Regions from separate parts of the Homo sapiens genome. Here region 1 is linked to region 2. Evidence: fine-mapped expression QTL. A gene starts in region 2. The other region holds a variant in brackets. All regions are shown on one strand. Distances are from middle to middle.

Region 1 (5,380 bases), 530 kb after region 2:
TTGCACTCCAGCCTGGGCTAAAAGGGTGAAACTCCATCTCAAAAAAATAAAAAAATAAAAGAAAAGGGAGCTGAGAAAATAGAGATAGTGATTGTAGGCATCCCTTTCAAAACACTTGGCTGGGAACAAGAGACAGAGTTATCATTGCAGGTGTTCTTTTTTTTTTGAGACCGAGTCTCGCTCTGTCACCCAGTCTGGAGTGCAGTGGCGCAATCTTGGCTTACTGCAAGCTCCGCCTCCCAGGTTCACGCCATTCTCCTGCCTCAGCCTCCTGAGTAGCTAGGACTACAGGCACCTGCCACCACGCCCGGTTAATTTTTTGTATTTTTAGTAGAGACAGGGTTTCACCATGTTAGCCAGGCTGGTCTTGAACTCCTGACCTCAGGTGATCCGCCCGCCTCGGCCTCCCAAAGTGTTGGGATTACAGGCGTGAGCCACTGCGCCTGGCCCATTGCAGTTATTCTTAATGGTCTCACTGTGTAAGTCCATTATACAAATCTCTTCTAGAAGTAAGTGATAACTTTTTTTTTTAATTAAACAAATGTATGGGCTGGACAGGCGTGGTGGTACACACCCATAGTCTCAGCTACTCAGGAGGCTGAGGCAGGAGGATAGCTGGAGCTGGGAGGCAGAGGTTGCAGTGAGATGATATGCCACTGCATTCCAGCCTAGGTGACTTGAGTGAGACCCTGCTTCAAAAAAAAGAAACCAAAAAAAAAAAAAAAACAAAAAAAAAACAGGAGAAGAAGTATATGATAGCTGCCAATAACTTACAAGCAAGAAGCAAACATCTATACAGCTTAGCCTTTTACTCAAGGTCTTTCACAACATAAACACATCCTACCTTCTCTAAATGCCTTTCCTTACTCCAGCTGAGCTGGTCCTATTGTTCCCATTTTTGTGTCTTAGTTCATGCTTCTTTTCCATTTTAGGTTTTTTCCTATTTCTGTCTCTTGCTTTTCCAGGACTCCAGGCTCAACCCCCACAACGTCTCCTTTCTTGGTATTTCAGCAGCACTTCTGATAGATCTCTTTTATTCTGAGTCCTTCATTTTTTACTCAGATGTGTTATAACAATGAAAATAATCACCTGATTTTTATTAAATTTTGTGATTCTGTACTCTATTTTGAAAGAATTCAGACTGAGAGGAAATGAAAACTAGGTAATACGCTGAGATAGCCTTTTGTAGCAGTAAAATCTGATACTTTTTTGTTTTTCAAAAATTCTCCCTAATGTTGAAAAACCACACCATATGAACAAGAAATTAGGGAGATTTCGTAATCATTAGGGGCTCTCTGTATTTACCTTTGCTGGGAAGGAAAAAAGAAATCTTGGTTAATTCTACTTTGTAATGTCACTGTAATTTTTCAGGAGTACAATAAAATAAACTATATAGATTTATTATTGTAAGTCCATTTTGACTAAATTTTTCTCCCTTTGAAGGTCCAAGGGATGTCCTTCATTGCAGCAGTACTCATTCTCAATTTGGAAGAGGCAGATGCCTTTATCGCATTTGCCAATCTCCTGAATAAGCCATGCCAGTTGGCCTTTTTTCGTGTGGATCACAGCATGGTATGAATGGATCATGTTTTCCATTGTTTCTGTAGTTTGAATGCCCTCTTAGAGTGAAAAACAATAATTAGAAGGCCAAAACAATCTAATCTAATATAAACTTATCATTATATTATAGTTTATTAATGAATGTTTGCTGAGAAGACTCAGAAAAAGATGAGATTCTTAATGAGCACGATTTCCTGTTAGTGTTTAAGCGTTTAATTTCTTTATTTCTAGACTATATACTTTCATAATTTTATTGATTTTTTAATCTTTAGATGTTGAAATATTTTGCAACATTTGAAGTATTCTTTGAAGAAAATCTTTCCAAATTATTTCTTCACTTCAAATCTTACAGTCTTACACCAGATATATACTTGATAGACTGGTAAGTCATAACATACGTAATATATAATAATGAAAAGGAAATAAAGTATAACTTTTTGTGTGTTTTAGGAACTAGAGTAAATCTCATGTGCAGGATTTTACATATAAAGAGCCTTCTTTTACAAATTTAGAAACTTCCAAATTTTTGTGGGGACGCATTTGATTAAGAGCATGGACTCGGCTGGGTGTGGTGGCTCATGTCTGTAATCCGAGCACTTTGGGAGGCCGAGGTGGGCGGATCACCTGAGGTCAGGAGTTCAAGACCAGCCTGTCCCACATGGCGAAACCCCGTCTCTACTAAATATACAAAAACTTAGTCTTGGCCAGGCACGGTGGCTCATGCCTGTAATCTTAGCACTTTGGTGGGTGGATCACGAGGTCAGGAGTTCGAAACCAGCCTGACTAACATGGTGAAACCCTGTCTCTACTAAAAGTACAAAAATTAGCCAGGTATAGTGGCATGCACCTGTAATCCCAGCTACTTGGGAGGCTGAGGCAGGAGAATCGCTTGAACCCAGGAGGCGGGAGGTTGCAGTGAGCCAAGATTGCGATACTGCACTCCAGCCTGGTGACAGATCGAGACTCCAGCTCAAAAAAAAAAAAAAAAAAAAGAACTTAGCTGGGTGTAGTCGCTGTAGGCTGCAGCAGGACAATTGTTGGAACCTGAGAGGCAGATGTTGCAGTGAACCGAGATCACACCCCAGCACTGCAGCCTGGACAACAGAGCGAAACTCTATCT[C/CAAA]AAAAAAAAAAAAAAAAAAAAAAAAAGAGCATAGACTCTGGGTTGAAATCAGAATCTCTCAGTTTGTGTTTCAGTTTTTTGTCTATAAATTGGGAATAATATTATCTTTATCTTGAGTTGTAGCGAGGGTGTTTTACGTGGATTATCTCATTCAATGCCTAGCACATACTAAGCTCTCAGAGTTAGTTGCTATTTATTTTATTATTAACACACAAGGGCTTATGATAGTTATAATAGTGTTTCTTTACTAAGGGCTTCATATTGTTTCTTTTTATTTCAAGGTTTTATCAAGCTTTTTTTCCCCAAGATGACACCAATTTGAATTTTTTAATTTGATCTCCCTTCTTACATATTGTCTGAAATTTTTTTTAAAAATGTAATAAATGTAAATACGATATACTTTCTCCAAGTTTCACATATGAATAGCTCAGCTTTTTACTGTTCCACACACAATTTTATTTCCTAGATTTTCTCTAGCTTAAAAAAAAAGGCCAAGTGCAGTGGCTGACGCCTGTAGTCCCAGCACTTTGGGAGGCCAAGGCGGGAGGATTGCTGGAGGCCAGGAGTTTGAGACCAGCCTGGGCACCACAGCAAGACCCCATTTCTACAAAAAATAAAAATAAAAAAATTGGCCAGACATAGTCGTGCATTCCTGTAGTCCCAGCTACTCAGGAGGCTGAGGTGGGAGGATTGCTTGAGCACAGGAGTTTAAGGTTACAGTGAGCTATGATTGCACCACTGTCCTCCAGCCTGGGTGACAGAACGAGATCCTATTAAAAAAAAATTATGTATGTTGCCAAATCATGTATACTGCAGACAGGATCACCATTTTATTACTTGTGTTTAAAGTTCAAAGTTTTTTAGACTTTTTGTTTGTCATATTAAGACTAATGATATTAATGGTGTTCCTAATAGGCATACAGCTCTCCTACAACCTGTAATTCAGGCACCAACGTTCCTTCCATTTTTTACTTCCACCGTCTTTAACAAGGCATTTTCAGGGTTTTCACAGAAGGGGAGAGAACAAGGAGACTCACAAGGGGAGATTTTGGGAAGCTAAGCCTAGAGGTATTACGCATCTCCTCCTCTCACATTCCACTGGCCAGGACTCAGTCATGTGGCCACAACTAACTGCAAGTGAAGATGCAAAATGTGGTTTAGCTGTTTGCCCAGAAAGAAAAAGAAATGGTTTGGTAAACAGCCAGTTTCTACCACACATACTTTTTTTCTGTTTAATCAGAACAACCACATAAGATATGTACTGTAAACCAGGGCATGATGGCTCACGCCTGTAATCCCAGTACTTTGGGAGGCCGAGGCAGGCGGATCACGAGGTCAGGAGATCGAGACCATCCTGGCCAACATGGTGAAACCCGATTTCTACTAAAAATAGAAAAATTAGCCAGGCATGGTGGTGCATGCCTGTAGTCCCAGCTACTTGGGAGGCTGAGGTTGGAGAATCCCTTGAACCAGGGAGTTGGAGGTTGCAGTGAGTCGAGATCGCGCCACAGCACTCTAGACAGAGCGAGACTCCATTAAAAAAAAAAAAAAAAAGATATGTACTGTAATTTTTACCACATACTGATGGGGAACCTGAAATTTTGTTTTTTATTTTTTCGTTCATTAAAAAATTTTTTTTTTATTTTTTATTTTTTGAGACAGTCTAGTTCTGTTGCCCGGGTTGGAGTGCAGTGGCGCAATCACAGCTCCTCCCACCTGGAACTCCTGGGCTCAAGCATTCCTCCCACCTCAGCCTCCTGAGTAGTTGGGATTACAGGTATGCGTCACCATGCCTGGATAATTGATACTGAAATTTTGATAGGCTTGAGTACCATACCTAATATTTCACAGTTAATAAATGGCAGAATAGAAACTAAAACCTCAGCAGTCCAGTTCCAGAAACCATATTCTTTATAAAGTTAACTACAACATGACCAACACTGATTTTACTGAAGAGGAATATTTAGGGTTTTTTTAGTTGTAAGAGAGGTGGGATTTTAGAACTGGAAGTAATCCAAATTCATCATTTTAGAGCTGAAGAAATTGAGATGCAGAAGTAGAATGTCATAGTGAAGGTCGAATCATTGCTGTTCAAGTATTATACAATATAAATAAACATTTTTTAAAGAAAATATAATGGCTGGGCATGGTGGCTCATGCCTGTAATCCTAGCACTTTGGGAAGCCGAGGTGGGCAAATCACCTGAGCTCAGGAGTTCCAGACCAGCCTGGCCAACATGGTGAAACCCTGTTTCTACTAAAAATACGCCGGATGTGGTGGCCTGTGCCTGTAGTCCCAGCCACTCGGGAGGCTGAGGCACGAGAATTGCTTGAACCCAGGAGGCCAAGGTTGCAGTAAGTCAGGAGGCTGAGGCACGAGAATCGCTTGAACCCAGGAGGCCAAGGTTGCAGTGAGCCGGGATCACGCCACTGCACTCCAGCCTGGGCTACAGAGCAAGACTCCGTCTCAAAAAAAAAAAAAAAAAAAGCTAAACAAAAAAACCGTAATTGCAACAATGTAACAATGTATATTACATTTTCTAAAAGTTAATTTCTTAAGCTATGTGGTTTAATGGAATTAAGATTTCTTTTTCTTTTCACTCTTTTGAAGTTTTAAAATATTTTTTTTAGTTGACACATAATAATTGTACATATCCATGGGGTACATAGTGATGTTTCTGTACATATAATGTATAGTGAT
Region 2 (5,380 bases):
CGTTTCTTAAAATAATTTTACTACTTAAATTCCCTAGTCTCTATGTTTATCATGTATTTAAATCAATTTCCATTGACTGGAGACCAGTATGTAATGTAATAAGCTCAAAAGACATGTGTGTTTTCTTCTGAAATTTCAAACATAGATGCACTTTACTGAAATAAAGTCTCCACAGGATTGTTTCTTGGGGCTGTTGTTGTTGTCTATGCAGAATGGTCTTGTATAAAGAGATGCATAACTTAGTTTACTGAAGCTGAATTTTCCATGGAAATTATCCAGTGCTTTCCCAATTCTCAGGCGCTTTATCTGACAGTCTTTCTTCCTCTAGATAATGGCTGGCAGCAGCCCACAGAGTGGAGGTTATATGGTGCACTTCTGAAAAAGTCTTGAATGGAGCCATTGTTCCCCTGAGATGGTCTGTGTGTTTCACTGAACAGAGAGCAGGGTGTAAAAAAGGCACCTTGTGTGCAACTGTTGGCGAGGTTGGGGAGTGAATTAAAATCTCCAGAAAGTCTGGGCAGTGCTGTTCAGAGGAGCAATGAACACTCTGGAAGTACTGTTAGCTCAGACATTCCAATGTGGTGAGGCAGCCTCGGGGACACGACTTCCCTCCAATCTCGTTTAGAGAGGGAGCCATGGGGCGAGCAAAGGACACTGATCTGGACCTGCTCTCTTTGCAAAGATTTGAGGAAGGCGCCCCTTTCTAGGGATGGGGCCACAGTGATTATCACACTTGGATAACTTTCCTGCTCAACGGACCTAGATTTGCCTTGCTTACTAATCATGCAATGACTCATTTGGAGGATTCAATGTTAACTGCTTGTGCATCTACCAGTTTGTAGCTATCTATTCCCATGTGCCAAATTAAAAAAAAAAAGTCTTTGGGGGTGCCAGGTGATGGATGAAGTTTGATATTATTTGATCATTAAATGAATTATAAAACCATAATATAATACTGTATATTAAATAAATAGCCTACCTTGTTTATTGTCAGTGATGCTACCTCTTTCCTCAGCCCTTTATTTACTTGTTCAGGATAACATAGCCTCAGGGATTGAGTAAATTACCACTTCTCACTGTCCTAGTGCTAAAATGCCAAGATCTTAAGGAACAAAGAATTTCTTTAGAGCCCTCTGCAGAGACCTTTCTGAAATCAGCTCTCCAGGGAGGCAATCATGTTAGTTTTCATTAAAGTCCTAGTGGTGAGAAAACAGCAAGACAGTTTAAGGACCAGACTGGCAGATTTTTCTTAACAGCAGGATTCTTTGGGCCTCCTGTGCTTTCTTGCTCCAACCTCTCCTGTGTTCTGGAGCCTCCAAGAAGGAGAGATCACTTTTAAGAGGGACCCGAAAGAAAGGGTCAAACATGAGCAGGAGGAAAGTGTGTGGGAGGAGATGCTCCAGGTAGAAGGCTCAGCTTAAGTTCAGGTACAGAGCTAGAGTGGGAGAGACATTCTGTTGGGTGATCCTTATTAGCCAGGGCATGCTGGGTTACACAGCCATGGAGAGTTAGTTTGGAGGGCAATAGGGAGCCAGTGAAGTTTTCTGCATAGATTAAAGTTGTAAAAAAGGAAGAATAATACAGCGGTGGTTTGAAGGATTGATTTGGTCCAAGGGAGAGGACAGTGGGAGGCGATATGGGCCACAGGAATGGGTCCTGATCGGATGTAGGAGAAGAGGTCAGGCCTAGGGAACGGTCTTCCATTAGAACAGGTAGAGGGAGGAGGCACAGGTTTAGGCGAAAGGGAGGAGGATGATGATTTGATTTTTTTTTCCAGGTCCTTGGCTCTCCTAAGACTCATAAAAGCCGCTCCAGCGGCTAAGGAAGTTCTGTGCAAAGCCTGTAGTTTCTAGTTGTGAAGATCTTCAGGTTTGCTTGAGCAATGAAAGAGTACTGGATTTGGAGTCCGCAGTCCTGGATGGCCACCATTACCAGCAAAAGGAGTATTTCCGGAGCCTGGCACAACGCTGGGCACATTGATGGGGCTCAATGAATATGTATTAAATGAACGAGTGACAGAACAGATTCGAGACTTGGTGCTGCCATCTACTACAGAGACCTTGATCGTGTCCTTTATCTGCCGTGAACCTCAGTTTCCATATCTGTCAACCAGGGGTGGTTCCCTGGGGTAGTGTGAGAGTAAATTCCCGCCGCCTGAGGTGTGCAGAGTTCCCGCCCTTCCCGGAGCCGGGCGCCCCAGGAGCGCTCTCTCTGGCTCCCGCCAGAAAGGATGGCTCCTAGGGGTCAGGGCCAGGGGTCTGGGAAGGGGTCGCGCCGCCAGCAGCCAGCTCCGGGGGAGGCGGCCGGGTCCTCGCTCCGCGCCCGCCTTCCCCGCGCGGCAGGAGCCGGGGGCGGGCCCGGCACAGGCCGCTCCCCCGCCCGGCCGCCCGCGGTGGCGCTAGCGGCCTCTCACCCGGGGCGGGCGAGTTCTGGGAAAGCCCGGCCCAGGGCGGGGGCCCCGCTGCCGCCCGCGCAGCCGCCGCTGTCCGGGCAGCGCGCACATCTCGGCGGGAGCGGACTGTGAACGGCGCGGGTCCACACGGTAACGCTGGGCAACGTGGGCAACGCGGCGGGCGGCGGGCTCGCGCGGCGGGAGGGGCAGCGGCGGCGCGCCCGGGCTCTACCTCCCGGGCTCTGCCTCCCGGGCTCTGCCTCTCGGGCACTTGCCTGGCTCCTGCGCGTTCCTGGGCATCGGCTCTGCAGCTGACACACAGTAGCGGGGACACCCGACGCCGCTAGCGACAGGCGCGCGGACGGCTGGTCCCAGAGGGACGCTGCGCTTGGGGACGCCGGCGAGACTCGCCAGGAGCCAAGAGGTGAGGAAGCGACTCTGTAGCTCGGTTCCTGAGGACTGGAGAAAGGGAAGGATGGGCTGGTTCTCTCCCAAGGCAGTCGACCCGCCTAAGGGAGCAGCCCGACTCCGCGTACCTGGCGGAAAAGTGTCCTCGCGCTCCCGGGGGACCCGAGGCGGGCGGTCCTCCAGGGCATGCAGGCCGCCCTCGCAGGGGCTAAAGGACACCCTGCCAGTGCCTTCACTCCAGACGCCTGCCTCAGGTCGCCCCTTCGTGTTGTGAATACGGTGTGGAGGTGGCCAGTGCAAAGAAAAACGTAAGCTCTTTTTGTGGCGGTACTTAGCAGCGGTATTTCAAGGAAAGTGCTCAAGAGATTGTTCCTGGAGAGATTTGTGTACATCAAGTCCTAGAAAATACAATATTGGACCAGGTCCCGCTCTAACTGATAACTAGAATAGCTAGCTTTGCCTTCAAGTCCTTTAATGCTACAGTAATAAATACACTAGAGCAAGAAGTCTTCTGTCGTGGCGAATGTTAGGTGCACAGCGTAAATTTGTGGAAGCTTTCGCCCCTCGCTCTGTATTTAAGCCATCAGACACTGAGTTCAGCCGACTTAACCAATTATTCAGTGTAAGACTCATTTAGTGATTAATCAGTGTCATTTTAAATAGTGAGTTCCCTGAATACCTGTTAAGTAGGATTCACGTCTTCGAAAAGTTTTATTTGCACGAAGGTCATAATTTCAGTTGCATTATGCAAAATTTGCCCGTAGGTCTTTTAGATCTCTGCAGGATTGGTATGTTTTCATGTTTCTTATACCCCCCGTAGAGGTAGGGCAGGGCCGCTGCCACAGAATGGGCACTACTGAGGCCAAGAATGCTTGACCCCACTAGGGAGAATTTTTGAGAGCCTGACTTGGGAGGTGGAAGCAGGTGACCCCATAGGTGCTTGTACAGGTGCCCAGTTGTCATTGAGGAGAGAGGTGGACTATCTCTAGGTTATTGTATGCATCGATGTCTTCATAAATACTTTTCTGAAGAATGTCTGATGGTGTTGTCATCTAGACCATCTGATGGCACATCTTCCCCCACATCCACCACTCTAAAGTCTAACCATCCTTCAAACTGTGTTTTGCTGGTGGTGTGAGGCTTTTCCTGAAACAGCCAACCTCCCCCTGCTCTGATTTCTGCAGCATTTTTTCTCCAGGGCCCTTTCTGCTCTCTACCTTCTGGGAGTTATTTATGTAGATGTCTCATTTTCCCTACTGAAGGCATTTGCTGTGGCTTTCATGGCAAAATGCTTGCACCTAGAAGACTCTAGAGATAATTGTGGGCCAGTATTAAATCTTAAGACTTTGGTTTTACAACATAAATATCTACTTTGGAGAAGGAGATAATATAATTGAAAGGAGCTAGAGGAATGTATAATGTTTACCATTAACACTATCCTTTATTTACAGCCCCATGGGGGAAATTCCCTTTATACCCAGGAGCCATGTCTTACCAGGTAAGAAGCCAGATTGAACTGGAGGGACATTCTTCCAGTCCTCTTAGTAACATAAACTCCTGGGATGTGGTCCAAGTTTGACCTGTCATTAAAAATTCCATACTCCAGTGGGTTAGAAGCTAGATTCCAATGAAGGCGGTTGGTTTTGTTTTTCTATTTACAACCATTCTTAGTCACATTCTTCTCTGGGCTTTTGTTGTATACTTTAAAAAAACTGTTTGATGTGCAATTTGTTACCTGTAACTTTCTAAATGAATAAAAGAAGATTGAAAAAATACTGTGCATGGTGGAAGAGTTTTCTAAAGTAGACAGCAGGGGACGTTTCCCATGCCTGGGCAAGAGGAGGGATTTGCACAGAGTGAGGCTTGCTGCACGTGTGTGTGTGTGTGTGTGCGCGCGCGTGTGTGTTCCACACACCTGGCTGACAGGCGCCTATATAGGACAGTTGCTTTAGTCTTAATGCCTTCTCTCTCTGCCGGAACTACTTCTGCGGTGGAAGAACAATAAAACAGAGCTTCTGGGTTCAGAAGGAGAAGCAGAGGAAAAGCCAAAAACAGTAGAAGCAGCTAAGAGTGTGAATTTGTTTGCTGAAGTTGCTTTCCTCCCAACGTTCAGTTGAGATCTGTGGCATTGAGCAAGTAGGGGTTTGGTTGAGGCGAGGGAAGACAGGTGATTAGGAAACATGGTGCTTCTGGAAGAGGGGTGGAAGGTTCTGATAGGGTTTTAGGGAAGCATGTGATTTAGTTATGTAAGGCCCAAAGAGGAGAGTTGGAGATGGAGGAGTAGGGAATGGAGAAAGAGAGGAAGACGATATCAAAGATGCATTTTGTTATAGGCCAACCATGTGGCCTACAAAGAAGGGCAGAACTCTCTCTAGCATCATGTGTTCCTCTCTGCTCCCTGGATGCAGAATGCAGGGTTTTTACCGAGGCTATAATTCATCTGTGTTATGGCTTAAATAGATTTTCGTGGGCCAGATTGGGAACCAAGCCCTCGGAGGCTACATTGTCCAACATGGTAGTCACTAGCCACATATGGCTATTTACATTTGAATTGAAATTAGTTAAATGAAATTAACCACC

What was found. PIP is the estimated chance that this variant, and not a neighbour inherited with it, causes the effect. A credible set is the group of variants that fine-mapping cannot tell apart.
Region 1: its variant is the best candidate, but not a certain one, in a credible set for the expression of PLCE1 in subcutaneous fat (TwinsUK, PIP 0.82).

The regions. Positions count from the first base shown.
Region 1 is chr10:94,520,512-94,525,891 of GRCh38, forward strand. It overlaps TBC1D12 (TBC1 domain family member 12), which reads left to right. Exons shown (of 13, transcript NM_015188.2): 10 at 1,444-1,572; 11 at 1,833-1,942. Among named protein-coding and RNA genes, the nearest start is that of HELLS, 23 kb to the right of the region's middle. The variant C/CAAA (reference allele first, on the strand shown) is at 2,681.
Region 2 is chr10:93,991,443-93,996,822 of GRCh38, forward strand. It overlaps PLCE1 (phospholipase C epsilon 1), which reads left to right and starts at 2,489. Exons shown (of 33, transcript NM_016341.4): 1 at 2,489-2,816. LOC105378438 (a long non-coding RNA gene) reads left to right here. Exons shown (of 4, transcript XR_946215.2): 4 at 1,778-2,277. RefSeq lists a silencer at 2,303-2,592.